Linked DNA regions of Homo sapiens. The protein of the gene in region 1 interacts with the protein of each later gene in a pairwise test. Each region holds a gene or a part of one and is shown on either strand. Other genes may lie near its edges.

Region 1 (7,023 bases):
TATGATGTGCTTAGTATAGCACCAGGGAAGTAGTATACTTGTAATAAATGCTAATGAGCTAATGATTATTTTCATATTTGGTGAATTTTACAACTTCTGATTTACACTAAGAGAAAAGCACAGGAGAATTATGCACAGTAAAAGGAATAAGTATAACATGCAAGTCCACATAATGTTCTGCTGGAGTACAGTGGATGGAATGATGGATTCTACCTAACAGACTTGGGGAAGGCTTCCCAAAAGCAGTTTCACTCCTAAGATATGTCTTGAAAGAAATGAAGGAATGAGGATAAAGGTACTTTAAGCAAAGAAAACCATGTAAGCAAAAGTGTGGAGGCTTTTTTTTTTTTTTTTAATCATGTCACAGAGTTTATTGTGTCATGTTTGGGGGCCTAGGAATCATCCACAGAAGCAGAAAATTGTGATGATTAGTTTTAGGTGATCTGCAAAACATCAGATCAGAAAATACACATTTTCCACGCATCTATCCTCCTACTTACTCACCTATCCACCCATCTAAGTTTAGGTATCTTGTTCTGTACTAGATACAAGAGGTCTTTAGGATACAGATCCTGCTCTTCAGATATTCAAACTTTATAAAAGACAAGACATGTAGGTAAATAATAATGAAGGCAGAAAGTGGTACTATAAACGAAATAAAAACTAAGTTTGATGGGGGTTGAGGAGTCATTCCAATCTGAAGGGATACAGAATTTTCAAAGGGAAGATGACATTTTATATTGGCCTGGAAAGATGCATAAATACATGGAGAGGGAAGAAAGAAGTGGGCAAAAGGCACAACCTTAACAAAGTATAAAAGGCAAAGGAAAGGACAAGAAGTTTCATGTATTAGAAAGAAAACAGAGAATACTTAAACTCTATGCATTTTATTTTCTCCACCTTTAAAATGGAAAAATACTGTCTTTACAGAGTTAATGTAAGAATGAAATAATATATAGAGTGTATAGAATGCTAAGATTTGGCTCTGCACCAAAAAAGCCTTTAATGAATTTTAGTTCTCTTTTTTATTATCCTTAGATTAAAACTGTGGGAGTATATATGGGGAATAGAGTAACAGACTTGGAAAGGTAAATTGGGGGAATAATTATAAAAGGTCTTCAGAGCCAAAATGAGATTTTTGAGCGTCATTTTCAAGGGCATGGTGAGGTGATGAATGTTTTGAAGCAGGAAGATGATATGATCAAAGCAGGAATGGAGTGGGGAAACATCAGAGAAGACGGGGATAATGGGGAGTCTGAACTAGGGAGCAGGTGGTGGAAATGGAAAGATTCATTTGAGCAATATCCAGAAGTATAGTCAGTAAGATTTGAAAGGTGAGTGGATTATGGTGGGGGAGTGGTGAAGAGCAGAGATAGCCAAAGACTCAAGCCTAGATGATTTAAAAAATAGCAGTGCCTTATCAAGACAGTTTATTTCTGGCTTAGAGTACCCTCTGCGTCACCCAATACAAACCATGAACACTCCAACCCTCTTGATATACATATACTTATGAAGTTGACCCAGAGAGATCTCAGTGCTCTGTAGCCTTAGGTCACTGTCAACGTATACCCCAAATCAGAATGAATAGGTCTAGCAAGTTGAGGCATATGATAAAGTCAGCATTTCATAAACGCAAATCCTACAGCTGTATCTGTGCAGTCTTGTGATCTGCAGATGGTCAACCACCCAGGAGAAGGAGGAAGTGGAGGGCAAGTTCGTTTGATTTTAAGGACAATGCATTTAGCTCAAGAACACTTTGCACATGACATCAACTCTTTCTCCAGGCATAGAGAAGAAGGGGAGTTAATGTAGAGATATACATTACAACAAATTTCTACCATATTAGCTTTGGAATGCAATCTGACAAATATATAGCAGCAGACATGCACAATTATCTAAAGTTAATCCTTCCTCCCTGATATCCCACTTCCTTTGTACTGCAAGGGAAACTATGCATCTAGTGCCTATTATATGCTAGTTACTATGACAGATACTTTATATGCTTAATCTCTTTTAATCTTCATGATGACACTATGAAGTGGTAATATTTTTATTATCCTATTTTACAGATGAGGAAACGAATGCTCAGAAAAACTTGCTCAAGGTCACACAGCTCAAACATAGTGGAACCTTGAAGTACAGATATTTTTACTTTATTTAACCCAACATTATTTCAAGCTATTTTTTACTGTCACATAACAATGATTAACTAATGTTCCCTTGACCACGCTCTGGGGAATGCTGCCTTATAGCATACGCATTTTCTCCATAACACAGAAGGAACACTAATATAGTTATGAGATTCTGCTGCTATAGAGTGGGATAGATTGATTTATTAGCTGAGTGACCTACTCTCACACAGCAAGCTTGCAACCCATTATGACTCAAATCCATACCTCAGCAAAATAATATTTACCATATATCATGAGCGTATGAGGTCTGATGTGGATATCTGAAACTATGAATGGTAAATTCTTAAATGCCAAGTGTCTAGGGGCAATAGCATAGACATACTGATAGAAATTACAACTCAGGGCCAGGCGTGGTGGCTCATGCCTGTAATCCCAGCACTTTGGGAGGCTGAGGTGGGCGAATCATGAGGTCAGGAGATCGAGACCATCCTGGCTAAGACGGTGAAACTCCGTCTCTACTAAAAATACAAAAAAAAAAAAAAAAATTAGCTGGGCGTGGTGGCAGGCGCCTGTAGTCCCAGCTACTCGGGAGGCTGAGGCAGGACAATGGCATGAACCTGGGAGGCGGAGCTTGCAGTGAGCCGAGACGCGCCACTGCACTCCAGACTGGGTGACAGAGCGAGACTCCATCTCAAAAAAAAAAAAAAAAAAAAGAGAAATTACAACTCAGGATCCATGCAACCCTTCTCAATTCTAAATCAATAGCTACAGTTCTCTCTTCTATCATCTGGGACAACAGACTGAGGACATTTGGAGTTTGAATCTAGAACGTTACCTTACAATGCACAGGGACATCTGTGTTCTTCCCAGAGCTGGCAGTGCAGATCAGTTTATTAAACAAGGCTGCCAACTTGTAAAAATAGCAGCAAATTATTTCCCAAGCTTTCTGGAATATCATATCCCTCCTTCAATTGAAAAGCTTCCTACCTCTCTGTCTAAGACATCAGGTTTAAAAAAATGAATTTACTATGCCCACATCCCCAAATTATCTCAGCTGACTACAGCTTCACCAAGCTCTCTGAGGATGTCAAGAATTCCTGCCCCAAAGCTGCCATGCTTTGCCAGGAAAACCTGTGTTCCCCTCACTAAAGCATGAGGCACGGAAATAGTCTCAAACCTGGAAAAAGCCAGAACCACTTTTCCCACTTCCATGACTTGAAAACACTGCTTTGTGAAGGATCTTAGCCTGAAATGGAGCTAAGAGACAGGCAGATAGAGCCCGTCTCCTCCAGAAGGGCACATCTGGTCATTACTGTAATACTGAGAATGACTCAGATAGAAGGTCAATTTGACTTCAGTTTCCCCAAAAGACTACACAAATAAAAGGAATTGTCTTATCATTCCAAATCTTTAAGTAAGCTGCCCATTTTCTGCCAGCTATCAACTGTACAACCAATCAGAATGAGTATCCAACATGCTATGTATCATCTTGGCTCCCTTCATGATCCCTTGAATGTCTGTTTCCTGTTGTGCACTTTGTGCCATTAATTCTTGACCTCCCACCTCATCTAACATCAGCCTACCATCTTCCCACATCCCTTGACCTAATGATTAATACTGTACATCCCATACCATACTGTACTAGCACATCTCTTCAGCTCCCGATGAGAATCTGTCCCTTAAGCTGTGTCTACTCTGGCTGCCCTAAGACTCAGAAAAATTACATAATTATATTCCATATTAATCTCGCCTCTTCTAGCACCACTGGGTTTTCCCCATTCCATGAAATGAGTAACCAAGGTAGTAGAAAAAGCAAACAAAACAAAAGAATGAACCTTAAAGTTATATAGGACTGAGATCATATCTTAGCACTGTCACAAGTTGTGGGGAAGCAGGCAATTTATTTAACCTGTCTAAACCTGTTTTCTTAGTTTATAAAAAGAGTACTGTAATGACTATGGAAAATGCATATAAAGTACTTAGCCTGATACCCTTAGGTGTACAATAAAAGGATGCTAAATAAATAATAACCAGAAACAGCATTAACAATAACTAGTACTAGTATTAATAACGCATTCAGTTTACAAACTACATTTTGAAAGCATGAACAACCTTTCCTTTCATGGCATATAAAGGCATATAAAGATTAATAAAAGGGCTGGTCAGTTTTGAAGAGTTTTGATTGAGAATGCCAGACATACAGGCTAAAAACTGATGGGTAAATGAATTTACAACTTGTCTTGCCCAGAAAATGAGCTGCTGTAGCTCCTTCAAGCAGAGACTAAGTATGAAATGCTAGAATTCGTAGCAATCTCCTTACTTGAGACCAGGAAGTGGAGGTTGCAGTGAGCTGTGATGATGCTACTGTACTTCAGCCTGGGCAAAAGGGGAAGAAAAGGTAGTAATCTCAAGTTGTAAAATAGATGAGAAAACTAAGACCAGGAGAGGGAAATTAAGACCACAAATCACACAACAGAACTAGGACTAAAAGACACGAACTAGGAGTGGACAGTATTATATAGATTAAGGAAGCAGGCCTGAGGGATCAGGCTTTCCTGGATTTGAATTCAAGCTCTACTACTTATTGTGGAGACGTGAGCAAGTTATTAATACTTCTGTAGTTCTCAGTTTATCTATGGAAAGGGACTTTAAAATAGTATCTTCCTCACAAAGTTATTGCAAAGATTAAATGAGATTATGTGTGTAAAGCACTAAGTACAGTACCAAGCCAGGCATGCAATTAACTATACATAAATAATAGTTTTTATTATTATTAGCAGTAGCAGCAACTGCTGCTGCCACCACCCAACCTATTAGAAGAAATGAATAGGCACTTTTCAGCAGACTGTACCCAAGGCCCCAGATACATAAACCTAAATAATAAAAATTCTAAGCCCTCCTAGAAATTGTTTTACCTGATCCCAGAATCTAAAGATTAGAGATGATCTAAGGTTTCAAATCTTCACCTAATGCTTGAATTGCCACCATGGGGTGGTTCTCTAGATATCTCCATTTCCTTTACCTATATCAGCCTTTGGTGGCTTAGGCCATGAGCAAAACTGGAGAACTTTAAGCAATTAACAAAACAAATCTTTACTAAGCACCTACTATGTGTCTGGCCCTGTGAACGGTACTGGTGATACAATTTTGAGCAAAAACCAGACATAAACAGTGCTTTCCCCTAAAAACTAGACAACATGTAAAATATTGCATTTCCTTTCACAAGACATAAAGGTCCATCCTACTATTGACACGCTCCCCTGGTTTGACTGGGTTTTTTGCAAGGTTTATCTCATTTCCTTTTATGTCAGCTTTCTAAACTTTATTCCTCATGCATTCTAACAGAATGCTAATCAAGTGCAAAACTATCACTGTGCCACCAAAGGCCACTCGTTAGCAGGACTGACTTTAACGAATTCAGTGAGGTCATCACCTGACATCCACTCCTGTGTGTGGGAGAGGATTCTGATGAAGTTTAGATTACTCAGGGCATTTAAGGCACCTGCAGACAACTAAGATAAACTCAACAAGTAGGGGCTTATAGGGAAACACAGGCATGCTCCTGAAGTTGTACCAGTCTGGGGCAAACAAAACGATCCAGAAGGAAGTATGTTTGTAGAGAAAGAAAACTTTAGCTAAATTACTAAGTTAAACATAGCTAAACTATGTCAAGGGCAGGCTAAATGAATAATAGGGTTTCCTGGAAAACATGCTTGCCTGTTGTCTCTGTCTTCCTCTAAAACTGCAGGACCTAGAAAGACTCCCTTGCATCTTTCACAAACATTTGAGTAGTACCTACGCTGCCAGTATGACTCAAGGAATATAAGACAAAGGAAAAATCAATAGCCCCTTCTCAGGGACCTCCAACTAACCTCAACCCTCTCTCTCTTTCAATTCCTTTCTCTGCATATAACATCTGTTCATTTAATCATGAGATTATGATTAAAGGATCAAGGAGATCCTAGGAAATATACAAAATGGGATGAGAATTTTGGGGAGACTAGCAGAGACTACTTAGGGTTATCAAAATCTGGCAAAGAGCCTGAGCAACAGAGTGAAACACCATCTCTACAATAAATTTAAAAGATAATCAGGTGTGGTGGCATGCACTTGTGGTCCCAGCTACTTGGGAGGCTGAGATGGGAGGATCACTTGAGCCTAGGAGGTTGAGGCTGCAGTGAACTGTGATTGCACCACTGCACTCCAGCCTGGGTGACACAGCAAGACCCTGTATAAATAAATAAATATGACAAAGCAACACTTAGTTCTCTTCCAGCACTGCCTTCCTCTCATAATTGCTAACACTCTTAAAGCAACTACTATTTATTGTCAGGCATTTTTTTATATGTTCTCATAGTCTCATAATAACCATGTAAAGTAAGTGTGATTCCTCTTCAAAAATAAGGAAACCAATGCTCAGAGAAAGTAGCCTGTCCAAGGTCTCAAAACCAATAAGTAATAGAGCAAGGATTCAAATCCCAGTATCAACTCCCAGCCATAAAATTACTAACTTAAAGGATGTTTCATAGTTCCCTAGCTTTAGACAAAGTCTGGCTGAGAGGTTGGTAAGGGCACCTAGAAATGATTTTTAAATTTGATTGTTTTACCAGAAAGACAAGATGGAGGGAATGTCACAAAGGTTACACATCAGTGTGCATAGACAATGATCTACTTTAAGGGCCTTATAAACTTCTGGCTTCCAACTATTCTCCAGACATAAACATAGGGGCTCTGAAGGGTTGGAAAAGGCTTCTAATAAAACTACTATAATGTAACATAGGTGTAAGACAGAACTGGGTTTGTATCCCAACCTAGCTACTTGCTCTGTAGCCCTGGGTAAGTCATTTAACCTGTTATTTTTCTTATCTGTAAACAAGGAATAAAACCTAGA
Region 2 (6,867 bases), on another chromosome or scaffold:
CCCTTGTTCCTATCTAGCCCTCCCACTTTACCTGCAATATCCCACAGCTGAAGCCGCACTATCTCGTAGTCAGACCACTGGAGAACCTTCAGAGCAAAATCCACTGAAAATATATGTACATTATACTTTAATAAAATTTCACTGTAAAAAATTAATAGGGATAAACTCAAATCAAATAGGCAGTGAAACCCTATGGACACACAACTCCAATCCCATATGTTTAACTTTAAGCCCTCAATTCACTGAGATGAGTCCACATGCGTGTATTTAGTGTGAGATGGATGATTCATACTCACTCTCCAAAGGGGTTTCCAGCTTTTACTCTACTGTCAAGCTCATTTATTTGCTACTGTTTGTCTCCAAGACTGGGGGTGGGAGTAACTATGAAAACAATTCTCATTCTCAGGTTAAATAGTTTCTGGGAGATTTAGGGGGTTTTCTCAGGGAAGGGGTGATGGGGGAGAAGGGGGAAATGAGACAAGTGTGGTTGCTTTCGTATCTTCCACATTCAATTTCACTGTTGGTTTCTAATCAAATTGTATTATGAAAAGAACACACCCTGGGGAACTCTACATCCACCATAAGGTTGCAGGTATTATCTTGGGCAAGAATGGAATAAATGGAAAAGGTCCCAGAGGAGTCCCAAGAAGAAGACACTGTGTGGATGTTGCTGAAGAGTCCTGCTGGAATCTACCACCAAGTCTGCAGGTGCTGAGACTCCTTAAGGCTGAGTAAGTATTCCATGGGGAAAGCCTTTTGGCTAAGGAGAGAAACAGAGTAATTTCTGAGGTTTGGAAATATTATCTTTCACATCTGTGACAGGAATCAAAGCTAAGGGAAATTTAGACTAAACACTGAAAAAAAAATTAGCCAATTATATTCTTTGCTAAAGGAAAACTACAGCAATTGTTAAAAATTAACTATTAATAGCAGGCCACTTTTAACCCAAATCCGTGAAATAGGGACCCTTATATTATTTAGGAGTGGGAGGGCAGAGCGGTCAGGATAGAGTGTCTGAAACTTTGAACCTTTAATTTTGCCAGACTTAAATTTTTTGTTCCTTTGTTTTTGAGACAGGGTCTCACTCTGTTGCCCAGGCTACAGTGCAGTGAGTGGTGCGAACGGGGCTCACTGAAGCCTCGACCTCCCCAGTTCAAGCAATCCTCTCGTCTCAGTTTCCCGAGTAGCTGGGACCACGGCTACTTTCTTCTTTAATTTTTGTAGAGGTGGGGGTCTTGCCATGTTTCCCATGGCTGGTCTCGAACTCCTGGGCTCAAGCAATCCTCCCGCCTCAGCCTCCTAAAGTGCTGGGATTGCAAGTATGAACCACGGTACTGGGCCCTACTGGGGGTTCTTAAGGAGAATGTTTTAATTGCAATGTAAATGTTTGTTAATTTCTTTTTAAACTTCCATATGAACAGGAGCACACATTTTCAATTTTTCCATTGGTACGAGTTTTCCCCCCTTGAAACAAGTTCTTTTAACAGAGAGAAATAAAATTTTAAGTTACTCTCCCCCATCACCAGCTCTTCCTAGCTAAATACCTTCTAATTAACAATAAGGCATTTCTGCCTCTGAAAAAATAGTTGAGTCCAAAGGCCACACCCGGGAAAGAAATGAATGAACTCGGTGTCCCCTTCCTCCCTACCTTCTCCAGTTTGAGGAAAAAAGTGGTGGGAAGATAGGTCAGAGAAGTGGTATATTTCACATTCTTGGAAGAATTCCTTGGTTACCTTTATTTAAGCAATCAACGGACAAAAACACAGCTCATCAGCCCTCATGGGCATCTGACTGCGTAGCCAAGGGGCTCGTTCGGGGATTTTGTGTCTTCCATCCCACCCACAGCCCCACAACAAAGCTACAGTCCTTCAGACCAGTTCCGCTTCCTGCGTTCTCCCACTGAAGCCAGGTTAAACACCTTGCGGTTCCTCCCTCAACAGAGGGGCAGGACTACAGCCCCAGCCGGCACCTAACCAGGAGGCCCCACAGAGGATCTCAGCTGCTTCTGCTGATTGGAGAGATTTGCCGGACAGCTGAAAGGCTGGAGACTTAAGTTCACAGTACGCCTGCAATAAACAGCAATTGCTCATCCTCATCCTCCCTTCCCTATTTCTCATCTTCACGCCTTTGCTCTTACCTTTCTCCTGGCAGTGGGCTCAGTTTGGGAAAATCTAACGGGAAACTCAAGAGAGGCGTGTAAACCAAACACCCGGCAATTACACCATCTAGGTTCCCAGACAGTACTTCCTGACCCGAAGAAGGACCCAACAACCGACAGCAAATCCCCACCCCACTTGGGTCCCCAGCTCGAGTCCGCGGTCGGGGCCTCCTCCTCCCCCTCCCCCTCCCCACCCCCGAGACGTCTCACCTCCCACCGTGGACTTGTAGTGTTTGCTGAAGCTGTCCTGGGAATATCGCTGCACCAGCGACGTCTTGCCCACTGCGGCGTCCCCCACCACCAGCACTTTGAACAGGTGGTCGCGGCTGCCCATGGCTAGCGGGGTGTGCGTTTTAGGGAGGCGGGAAGTGTGGTCGGGGATCGGGGGTCGCTCGTTTTAACCCCTTTGGATCCGGACCCTCTTCAAACTGAAGTGAGGCATTCCCACCCACCGCCTGTCTGGGCTGCTCTGACGAGAAAGCAAAAAAGGAAACTTTGCACTCAACCTATACGCGCTTCCTCCCCGGGCGGCCGCAACCTGGGTGGGGCGCAGGGCGCGAGCTCCGAGCCCCCGGCTGTTCGCACCTTCCCCACCCCCTCCTGGCCTGACTGCCGAGAAACTGGACCAGGCGCCGCGGAACCTCACCCACCGGGACTTCCCCCGAGCGGCTCCAAGTCAGTGACTGAATCCCAGTCAGCTCCTTACACCACTGGGGCCAGATGATGGGGACCCTCCCCTTGCAGCACAAACCAAATTGTGAGGAAGGAGCAGCCGGCACCTCGATTCCCTAGACGCCCTCCCGCGCGCCTCTCTCTCCCCTTCCTCCGCAAGCGTCACGTGCAGGGTTGCCTGTGGCACTACATTTCCCAGCTTTCCTCGCGGTAAAGAGAACCAGCCGAGTGCGGAGGCTCACCGCGAAGCCTCCTGGGAAATGTAGTATATTCGTTATTTTGTTTTAAGCAAACCTACACCAAGTTTCAAGGCTTCAAACTCCCTCGACAGTTTGGAATCTTATTTTGAAACAATTCTAGGTCAGTAAAGATCCCTTAAGGGGAGATTTGTGCAACGTGATCTCACTGGCCTGAATCCATCCCCAGATAGTTTTCTCCTGTCTTTAAAGGTTTAACTGAGTTAAGATTGAAACTTATTTCATTAGTAAAAGCCCAAGCCTCATCCATCATGCTCCAAGTGAAGTCCATTTCCTATTCCTTCAAGTAGATAGACAAGCCCAGGACTTTGTGAAATGACTCATATTTTCTGTGTGAACTTGCCCAATACCAGGCAAGTTCAGGAAAACTTGACCCAAGAGACCAGTCTTTGGAAAAAAACCTATGCCAAAAATTACAGCATTTAATATCCAGCAATAACAATAAAGATGGACAGAAAACAAGAGACAGTTCTCCATTCATACTTCTACAATGCCTATTCTAGCCATACTACTCATGTATCACTTGAGCTAGAAGCTAATTGAAATACACTGGGACTCCTTCTTGATTTGTTGTGGCTGTTGTTAATAGATAATCATAAAACTAGTGTTTGGCAAATAATTTTAATTTCTCAGCCTGTAACTTTACTGACCTACCTGTCACTTGGGTAGAAGTTGGCAGGACATGAGCTCAATGGCAAGCAAAGAGAGCTCCATTTTCTATACTTTTCTAGGAATAGAGGAAGAGAACCAGCGGGGCCATGGGAAAACAGCCCAGGACCAGACACTAGGAAATCTAGGTCTCTTGATAGAGAGGCTATCACTTATGTTTTGTGGCGAAAGAACATCAGCATGGTTCACAATATATTTTGCCCAGAATGTTCGTTACCCAGGTACAGGAGGTTAGTTCAAGCTACTCATCTTTAAGGATCCAGTTTTCTCTGTTCTTATTCGTTTTGACATAGTTGACCACTCCTTGACATTTGTTTCCCTTATGCCTTCTATGACGCTGTTCTTTCTTTGTCATCCCCGTACTTCTCTGATGATTATCTTTTTCTTTCAGGTTTCTCTCCATCCCATTTCCCGCTAAGTATTTCCTAAGGCCTGATTCTTGGTCTCTGAGTCAATCATTCGATAAACTCTTTAGTGAATTGTCCTTGGTGTCAAAGATCTATCTTCACTTTATTTGTTCTTTATCTCTGATCAGTGATATTCTGTCAAGACCAGCTCTGTTGGGGAGACCCTAACCCAGTGGCGCTAGAGGAATTAAAGACACACACACAGAAATATAGAGGTGTGAAGTGGGAAATCAGGGGTCTGATTTCCTTTAGAGCTTTTAGAGCTGAGAGCCCCGAACAGAGATTTACCCACGTATTTATTAACAGCAAACCAGTCATTAGCATTGTTTCTATAGATATTAAATTAACTAAAAGTATCCCTTATGGGAAACGAAGGGATGGGCCGAATTAAAGGAATAGGTTGGGCTAGTTAACTGCAGCAGGAGCATGTCCTTAAGGCACAGATCACTCATGCTATTGTTTGTGGCTTAAGAATGCCTTTAAGCGGTTTTCCACCCTGGGCGGGCCAGGTGTTCCTTGCCCTCGTTCCTGTAAACTTACAACCTTCCAGCGTGGACGTTAGGGCCATTATGAACATGTTACAGTGCTGCAGAGATTTTGTTTATGGCCAGTTTTGGGGCCAGTTTATGGCCAGATTTTGGGGGGCCTGCTCTCAACATGTCCCTCTTCTCTGATTTGCAAATTGATAAATGCAAAGGCAGCTTTGTCACGGTGAGCTACTTCTCGCAGGAGTCAGGATACACATCTGCAGACTATACAAAGACAAACAACACAGATTAAAAGCACAATCATCATTGAAATCACAGAGCTTCCAAGTGTTTTTATCCATTTTCGGCTCCTTTAAGCACTCCAGTTCCTGGCATTAAGGTCAAGTGTGCCTCGGATGCTTTAAATATTTCTTCTTTTAATTTTAAATCCTTATGTTAAGCTCCTAGAGCGGGCCATATCATTTGAGGTTGAGGTGTCACTATACTGCCATGGTTCCAGATAATAGGAACTCTTGCTGTACTTCTTATTATATCTACCATCTGACCATTTTGTTCAGACCAGCTGAACATAGTGTGGCCGTGGCACGCAGACTGAGAGGTGCAATTCAAGCTAAACATCCCCTTAGGGGACCAATTAATAATGATTCCATAGGAATCATTGTGCAGCATCTCTGCCTGTTCTGCAATGCAATCTTCCTAAACAAGTACGTTCATTTTTTCTAACTGGGTCCAATCCTGTTTACAAATAAGTTTTTGAGGGCGGTATGCCTCAATTATAGGAGCAGATTTATTATGGTAAATACTGAGATCAGAAAGCATGTGTAACTGCGTCATAAAGTGATTGCATCCAGGCATTATTGCCAGCCAAGATTGATAAATATACCCAATAAGTATAATTGTTCTCTGTGTCAGCCCTTAATGAAGGAATACTCACGGCACTGGTGATAACCGCTATCATAGCTACCATTAACACTTTATTTGTTCTTTATCTCTGATCAGTGATATTCAGCTGCCCAAAAGGTGCCCCCACTTGGATGTCCTGCCACATCCTTCCTCTTACTACATTGCCATAAAAATAGCTCCTTTTCTCAGCTTCCCTATTTCTGTCACTGGTCTCATCATTTCTTGCCTCCATGTAGACTTCAGATTCTGAGCATTATTATTTCCTTTACACATGTCCCTTTATACCTATTTATTTGTTTGTTTGTTTATTGAGATGGAGTCTCACTCTGTTGTCCAGGCTGGAGTGCATTGGCATGATCTTGGCTCAGTGCATCCTCTGCTTCCTGGGCTCAAGTAACTCTTGTGCCTCAGCCTCCTGCGTAGCTGGGACTACAGGCGCATACCACCAAGCCTGGCTAATTTTTGTATTTTTTTTGTAGAGACAGGGTTTTACCATGTTGGCCAGGCTGGTCTTGAACTCCTGACCTCAAGTGATCTACCCGCCTCAGCCTCCCAAAGTGCTGGGATTACAGGCGTGAGCCGCCGCACCTGGTCTATACCCTTTTAAAAAAAATTCAGTTACCATGTCTGATTGATTGTTTCTTCAGTAAATGGTTTCTCCCACTCATCCTCTCTGCTTCATATTCAGTAATACTTTCCTTTTTTTTTTTTCTCCAACTTTTATTTTAGGTTCAAGGGGTACATGTGCAGGTTTGTTACACGAGTAAACTGCATGTTGCGCGAGTTTGGCTTACAGATAATTTTGTCACCCAGGTAATCAGCAAGTAACACTTTCCTAGTTCAGGCTTTCACCATCTCACACCTGGATTCCTGCAGTAACCTGTTTATTGGTCTCCCTGAATTTATTTTCTTTTTAACTCACCGTCTACAACTGGACAGGATGGTTTTCCTAAAACACCATTGTTTGTTCTTCCTTGTCTACCAACTGTCTTTCAAAAAAAAAGGCCAACCTCCCTGAAGCTGGTGTCCAAAGCTTTCTATGCACCTGCCCCGGCCTACCTAACCAATTTTATCTCACCCGACTTCAAATGGGAGTTTCCTTCTTCCAACAAGGTGAGGTTCCTTATGCTCTTTTAAAGCCCAATGTCATTTTTGATTTTCTGTTTTTGTCCAGGATGCATCACCTTTCAGAATACTCTTCAGGTTTCTTTCTACACATCTAAATCTTACTTAAATATTATTAAGAAAATCAAAAGGAAGAGAAACTATATTATTCACTAAGTGGGAGTGGATTGTCTTAAAGGTCACCGAAG
Region 3 (7,536 bases), on another chromosome or scaffold:
TGGGCATGGTTGCAGGTGCCTGTAATCGTAGCTACTTGGGAGACTGAAGCACGCGCGTCGCTTGAACCCAGAAGGCAGAAGTTGCAGTGAGCCGAGATCACACCACTGCATGCCAGCCTGGGCAACCTGGGCAAGAGAGTGAAAACTCTGTCTCAAAAAAAAAAAAAATTTACAAAGTTTTGCACAGAGCCTTGGAAAGGCCTGTGCAAGTGAGGGGTCCTGTAGCCTAAGTTTGATTAGGTTCACAATCACACCACCTCTGGGAGGAAAAGTCATTGAGCTGTTAATATCTTTTTATTTTAAATCCTACTCCTGGAAATCAGTTCAACAAAAGGATCGAGAGGCAGTGTGGCCTAGTGGGTAAGAACAGTAAAATACAAGGTCCTTTCCATAACCTACAGTGTCCTCCATGATTCCAGTGACTCTCTCCTTCCTTTGTCTCTTGACCCTCCATCCCCACTCTCGCTCCACTCAGCCACATGGGTCTTCGTGTTTAAGGTCTCCATGCCAGCCACATTCCCACCTCAAGGTCTTTGCCATTCCTTCTATCTGAACTGTTCTTCCTCCAGATCTCCACACTGCTTGCTCTTTCACCACCCTGAGACGTGTACTCAATATCTTCTGAGTTTGCAGTGAGGCCTTCCCTCACCAGCCCAAATCTCCTTTTCTTCTTTTTTCTTTTCCTATTCCTATTGCCAGTTTACCTACTGTACATGTTACTTTTTTTTTTTTTTTTTTTGAGAGGAGTTTCGCTCTTGTTGCCCAGGCTGGAGTGCAATGGCGCAATCTCAGCTCACTGCAAACTTCACCTCCCGAGTTCAAGTGATTCTCCTGCCTCAGCCTCCTGAGTAGCTGGGATTACAGGCGCATGCCACCATGCCCGGTTAATTTTTGTATTTTCAGTAGAGACGGGGTTTCCCCATGTTGGCCAGGCTGGTCTCGAACTCCTGACCTCAGGTGATCTGCCCACCTTGGCCTCCCAAAAGTGCTGGGATCACAGGCGTGAGCCACCGCGCCCAGCCTGTACATCTTACTTTTATCTCTTTCTGTTGTCTTTCTGCCTCCTCTAGAATGTAAGTTCCAAGAGGGTGGAGATAATTGTCAGTTTAGTTCACTGTTTAGAACTGTTATTGGTATATAACAAGCACTGGACAAAAGCATTGCTGAATAAATGAATGAAAGAGCACCACCTTTGGGCTGGGCGTGGTGGCTCATGCCTGTAGTCCCAGCGCTTTGGGAGGCCGAGGTGTGTGGATCACTTGAGGCCAGGGGTTTGGAACCAGCCTGGCCAACATAGCGAAACCCTGTCTCTACTAAAAATACAAAAAAGTAGCCAGGCATGGTGGTGGACACCTGTAATTCTGGCTACTTGGCAGGCTGAGGCAGGAGGATTGCTTGAACCCAGGAGGCGGAGTTTGCAGTGAGCCGAGATTGCGCCACTGGCACTCCAGCCTGGGTGACAGAAGCGAGAGGGAGACGCTGTCTCAAGAAAAAAAAAGAAAAAAAAAAGCACCACCTTTGGCTTTAAATAGATCTGGGTTGAAGTTTTATATATGCACCTGCCGGCAAGTGCCAAGTTACTTAACTTCTCTAAGGCTGTTTCTTCATTTGTAAATGGAAATAAAAGTACTTCATAGGGTTGAAGCATTGTTGTAAAGACTAATTAAAACCATGCCCATAAAGGGCATAGCTGAGTGCCAATCAAACTGTAGACACTCAGCAAATGTTAGATATTAGTAAATAAAAAAGTTAGCTATTAGTATAAAATGTATATGCATAAAGGTATTCATTATAGAACTATATATAGTATTTAAAAACAGGTATCAGAAATAGGAAAATGGTCAAAAGATTCTGCCACATCACTAGTAGAATATTAGTCATTAAAATGATTATTAAGACTTTGTAGAAAGAGAAAGCCTTTAAAAAATAATTATTTAAATAATATTATTAATAAATTAATAATAAATTTAATAAATATTCAATATTATTTAAAAATAATAAATATTTTTAAAAGCCAGTCAAATTTAGCAGTGGGGGGTTGTATACCAACTTTAGTGACACTAATGTTAATAAGTTCTGATAAATCACTACCATCGGACCAGCCAGAAAGCCTTTGAATGTAAAGTTACAAGAAAAGACCAGACATACCTGGCCTACCGTTGCTCTGATTTAAACTTCAGTGTTTCTAAAGGCCGAAGTTGAATTCCAGAGCATTCACTATGAATTCTAGAGCACAACTTAGAAATAAACACTGCCAGGCCGGGCGCGGTGGCTCACGCCTGTAATCCCAGCACTTTGTGAGGCCGAGGCGGGCAGATCATGAGGTCAGGAGATTGAGACCATCTTGGCTAACACGGTGAAACCCCGTCTCTACTAAAAATACAAAAAATTAGCCGGGCGTGCTGGCGGACGCCTGTAGTCTCAGCTACTCGGGAGGCTGTGGCAGCAGAATCGCTTGAACCCGGGAGGCGGAGCTTGCAGTGAGCCGAGATCCCGCCACTGCACTCCAGCCTGGGCGACAGAGCAAGACTCCGTCTCAAAAAAAAAAAAAAAAAAGAAATAAACACTGCCAGATATTGGGTGTACATTTTTCTTGTTCTTGTCTTTTCTCATGCACGTGTACTTTTAAGTTTATCAGAGAAACTTTCCTTAGCCCTCCACCTAAGCCAGATAACCCCTGTTTTCTTTCACTGTACCTTGGTTATGAGTAGTGGGTACAAAACAATGGTGGTGGTAGTAGAGGGAAATAAACAGAATAAACCTCAGGCAATATCGTCAAGTATTATCTGTTATTTATATAAATATCTAGCTTTTATATCAAAATTATCTTTTTGTAAGGCTGTATCAATTTATATTCCCACCAGCTGTGTTCTTCGTAGATTTGCTATCCATTGGTTCCCAAATGTTGTATACTCTCATTACACTGTGGAATATTTAATGCCTTTTTGTTATGAAAAAACTGTTTTTATTAATTAACATCAAGGATATGGTGCTGACAAATATTCTCTAAAATTATGGAATGTTGGAAACTCTGCTGTCTGACATCCTTTCCGTGTGAATGGAACATCCCATTCTTGTCCAGAGCATCTGAGCCATACAGGTCACTTTGACACAGGATTTTCAATACAGGTACAAAGCTTTAGATAGAGTTTTCAGACCCAACGTTTCACATTTGTCGTAATTTTGAGATTTCCAAGGAAAGAGCCTGCTTCCTACTCAGGTCTGATGTTAACCTGATGCTGCACACAGCTCTGCTTTGCTTCGAGTCTATCAAACACTGCTCCAGTTAATTCTTACCAAAAAATCCCCCCATTCCCATAACCCAATAATGACACTTCCGTTTGATGAGAGGCATTGAGGTTCCTCTGGAGTGCAGTCTCCCTTGCTGCAGCAAGTTAATAAATCTAACTTTGTTGACTACAGGTTTGTTCCTGGTGCTCTTTATTGGAAGACTTTAGCAATCTTAAACTGCTGGCCCCAAATCCCAAAACAACGGGAAACTCTACTCAGTATCTTTTCTTTTTTTCTTTTTTTTGAGATGGAGTCTGGCTCTTGTCCCCCAGGCTGGAGTGCAATGGTGCAATCTCGGCTCGCTGTAACCTCCACCTCCCGGGTTCAAGCGATTCTCCTGCCTCAGCCTCCCAAGTAGCTGGGACTACAGGCGCCCTCCACCATGCCCGGCTAATTTTTGTATTTTTAGTAGAGACGGGGTTTCATCATGTTGGCCAGGCTGGTCTCGAACTCCTGACCTCGTGATCCGCCCGCCTCGGCCTCCCAAAGTGCTGGGATTACAGGCGTGAGCCACCGCGCCTGGCCAGTATCTTTTCTTAAAGATTCCTTCTTATACAAGTTGAATTAGACAAGATGGATCATTTTGGCTTTTAGTTCCTCCAACATTCCAACCTAGTTAGAGCGGCTTTTCTCTGTGCATGGAAAATTCTTCCCCCAGATCTCTTGCCTGGCTGGCCCAGTTCATACCTAAGGTAGCCATCTGTCCTCACACTGCCGCACCCCCACCCCGTCACTCCACCTCATCATCTCATTTCATTTTCCTATTTTTCTAATCACTCTCTGAGATTATCTTACTTCATTATCTATTTGTTTATAAATTATCCCAATGAGGATGTTAAGATCAGGAGAGAGGGTACCACGACAGCGCTGACAGCCGCAGCTGCCCAGTGTCTAGAACTGTGCCCAACAAACACTTGTGGAATGAGTAAGCAGACGAGGAACTAGACACTTCGTTTGCCTTCGTCCCCTTTAAATACCCTCCAGGTGGACCCAGCCGCATTAAAACTCTGAGAACTAGGTGAATGGCATTTGGCCTCGCCACTGGCCGGAGCGTTTGCCGTTGATCCAGGCAACCACTGTTTTCCCACCAGTCGTGTAGTCGCTCTACCTGGCTCCGCCCCCCAGGACGCCGAGCCTCGGCCGGGCGGTAAAATCGGCGCTTACCCTTTAAGCGGCGGGACTTCTGGTCACGTCGTCCGCGGTCGCCGGAAGGGGAAGTTTCGCCTCAGAAGGCTGCCTCGCTGGTCCGAATTCGGTGGCGCCACGTCCGCCCGTCTCCGCCTTCTGCATCGCGGCTTCGGCGGCTTCCACCTAGACACCTAACAGTCGCGGAGCCGGCCGCGTCGTGAGGGGGTCGGCACGGGGAGTCGGGCGGTCTTGTGCATCTTGGCTACCTGTGGGTCGAAGATGTCGGACATCGGAGACTGGTTCAGGAGCATCCCGGCGATCACGCGCTATTGGTTCGCCGCCACCGTCGCCGTGCCCTTGGTCGGCAAACTCGGCCTCATCAGCCCGGCCTACCTCTTCCTCTGGCCCGAAGCCTTCCTTTATCGCTTTCAGGTACTTACCGGAGACGGGGGGCGTGGAGACTACAGGCCCCAGGAGGCCCAGCGGCGGCTAAGCGTAGGCTGGCATGTTGCGGGCGCGCGGTGCCTGCTGGGATTTGTAGTGGGTCCGGCGCCGGCGGTTTAGGGCGGGGTCCTTTGGGCCCGGGGAGGCTCTGGGATCTGGAGCGGGGTGCTGGATAGCTGGAGTTGTGGGCTGGCCTGGTGGGGAGGGGTTGACTTCACTGGTATAGTGAGATTGTGCTTCCCGCTCTTCGCACTCAGTGAAGGAAGCAGTGAGATTAGTCGTTGGTAGTTGTCAATCTGTTGGACGCTGGCGATTAGGTCCGCCTGGAGCATTGCCCTCTGACCTCCCTCTGTCACCCACGTGGGTGGCCTGTAGGTGTCAACTTCACCAACTTATAGCTGAGTTCCTTTCACGTTTATGGAGTTTTTTTGTTTTGGTTTTCCTATAGGAGTGATTTAAAGTCAGAGATACAAAGAACGAGTGTATTGTTCTGCATTTCCCTCTAGACCTAATTTAGTGTCCCCCACGTAGTAATAGAATGTACGAAGGAATGGGCAAAGAGTACATTTGTCCAGAAATGGAAGGCCTTGTTATTTTCTTAAGCATGAAGGAAACAGTCCAGAGTAACATTTCTGTCAAGAGAGTGCCAGTTTTCTGAAGGTTATCTGTATTCACCAATTTCTGATTTAAAACTTCAATCAGTGGCAGGTCAGATAGCAAGATCTGGCATTAATTTCAGCCCTTTACTTGGCCTATGGATAACATTTTCTTGTCTTTCCCTGTCTTCACTGGGTGTTACTTCTTGGTTTCCTTTGCTGGTTCCTTATCTTCCTGACTTTTAAATGTTAGGATGTGCCTTGGGAATCAGTTATAGGACCTTTTCTATAGACTCTCCCTAGCTTTAGGTGGTCTCATTCATTCAGCCTCAGGGCTTTACATACTTTCTATAAACTGGAGATTCTGAAATATAAATATAAATATCTTCAGTCCAGATCTGTCTCCCTATTTCCAGATTTGTGCATCCAGCAGTTACTTGAAATCACGACTTGGATGACTAAGAGTCATCTTCATCTTAACGTGTCCAAAACTGAATCCCCTTTCCCCCTTTGCCTTAGAAGTGAATAGCAACTCCGTTATTAGAGGAGCTGAAGTTAATTGTCGGAGTCATCTTTTATTTTTCTTGTTTTTCTCACACCCCACAATCTGTCAGCAAATCCTATTGACTCTACTTGAGACATATATCCAGAATACAATCCCTTTTCATTCTCCATTGCAAGCCATTATCACTGCAATCTGGTTCCTTTCCATCTTTTCTCTAGACAGCTAGAGTGATCCTTTTAAAACCTACATCAAGTCCTGTCTTTCCTCTGTCCAGAATCCTACCATGTCTTCTTAATGAGTAAAATCCAAGTCCTTTCAGTGGCCTGCAAGGCCCCTGCTGCTTCTCTGACCTCATCTCCTACTACTCTCCAACTTGTACCTTAGGCTCCACAATGAGATCCTTGCTGTTACTTCAGTGCTTATCTGGATCTCTCCTCAGGGCCTTTGCACATGTTGTTTCTCTGCCTGAGGAAGATAACCGTGGCTCAGTTGTTTACCTCCTAACCTTCTTCAGATCTCTGCCCAAATGCCGTCTTGTTGACAAGGCCTTCTCTGATGGCCGTACATAAAATAGCCCGTCCTTCACTCCACTCCCTTATCCCTTATCCTTCATTTTTCTTTCTTTCTTTCTTTTTTTTGGAGACGGAGTCTCGCTCTGTTGCCCAGGCTGGAGTGTATATGGCGCAATCTTGGTTCACTGCAACCTCTGTCTCCTGGGTTCAAGCAGTTCTCCTGTCTCAGCCTCCCAAGTAGCTGGAATTACAGGTGCACACCACCATGCCCAGCTAATTTTTGTATTTTAGTAGAGACGGGGTTTCGCCATGTTGGCCAGACTGGTCTTGAACTCCTGACCTCAGGTGATCCACCCGCCTCAGCCTCCCAAAGTGCTGGGATTAGAGGCGTGAGCCACTGAGCCTGGCCTTATCCTTCATTTTTCTTGCTACATATTACCCTTTGGTATTTATTAGTCTGCTTCCCCTCAGAGAATAAGGCTCCATGAGAGCCGTTCACCACTGTCCTTGTTACCTGGAATAGTGCCTGGGACGTAGTAGGTGCTTATATATTAACTGAGTTGTTGGAAGTAATTGGGCACTTGCTGTGTGCTGGGCACTGGGGTACAATAGTAAATAGGACTGAAAAGGTTTCAGAGCCTGTGAAGACATAGAGGCACGTGTTTTAAGGGGTGTAATATTTGATAGGGTGTTCCACCCAGAAAGGCCTCAGAGAAGACATTTGAAGAAATTGGAATACTGAGGAGCCAGCCAGCCAGCTTTGGGTAGATCTGGCTCTGGAGACAACCTTCCAGGAAGGACTAGTAAGTGAAAGGCTCAGAAGTAGGAGCTGGGAACAGGAAGAAGACTGGGTTGCCAGCTGGCACAGGGTCAGCTGTAGGGTGAGGATTAGTAGATGACAGCAGGGAGATAGCCAGGGCTGGGTGTAGTAAAGCTAAGATGGAAAGGTGGGTTAAAGCTAGATCATAGTTGAGCCTTGTAGGTCATGTTAAGAGGTTTGAACTTTATTTTGAGGGCACTATGAAGTCTTTGGAGCCTTGTGAACAAAGGACTGACAGAT

Evidence for each region. The genes of interacting proteins can lie anywhere in the genome.
Region 2: the proteins of TRIM32 (region 1) and RAB29 interact in binary tests that used the Homo sapiens proteins (3 or more experiments, as listed by UniProt).
Region 3: the proteins of TRIM32 (region 1) and DERL1 interact in binary tests that used the Homo sapiens proteins (3 or more experiments, as listed by UniProt).

Annotation. Positions count from the first base shown.
Region 1 is NC_000009.12:116,690,282-116,697,304, reverse strand, and holds part of TRIM32 (E3 ubiquitin-protein ligase TRIM32), read right to left. Parts: intron 1-7,023. UniProt on the Homo sapiens protein: E3 ubiquitin ligase that plays a role in various biological processes including neural stem cell differentiation, innate immunity, inflammatory resonse and autophagy.
Region 2 is NC_000001.11:205,772,465-205,779,331, forward strand, and holds the start of RAB29 (ras-related protein Rab-7L1), read right to left. Parts: upstream 3,019-6,867; 5' UTR 2,809-3,018; exon of another isoform or gene 2,623-2,808; 5' UTR 2,493-2,622; coding exon 2,369-2,492; intron 104-2,368; coding exon 32-103; intron 1-31. UniProt on the Homo sapiens protein: The small GTPases Rab are key regulators in vesicle trafficking. Essential for maintaining the integrity of the endosome-trans-Golgi network structure.
Region 3 is NC_000008.11:123,039,285-123,046,820, reverse strand, and holds the start of DERL1 (derlin-1), read left to right. Parts: upstream 1-4,518; 5' UTR 4,519-4,698; coding exon 4,699-4,851; intron 4,852-7,536. UniProt on the Homo sapiens protein: Functional component of endoplasmic reticulum-associated degradation (ERAD) for misfolded lumenal proteins. Forms homotetramers which encircle a large channel traversing the endoplasmic reticulum (ER) membrane.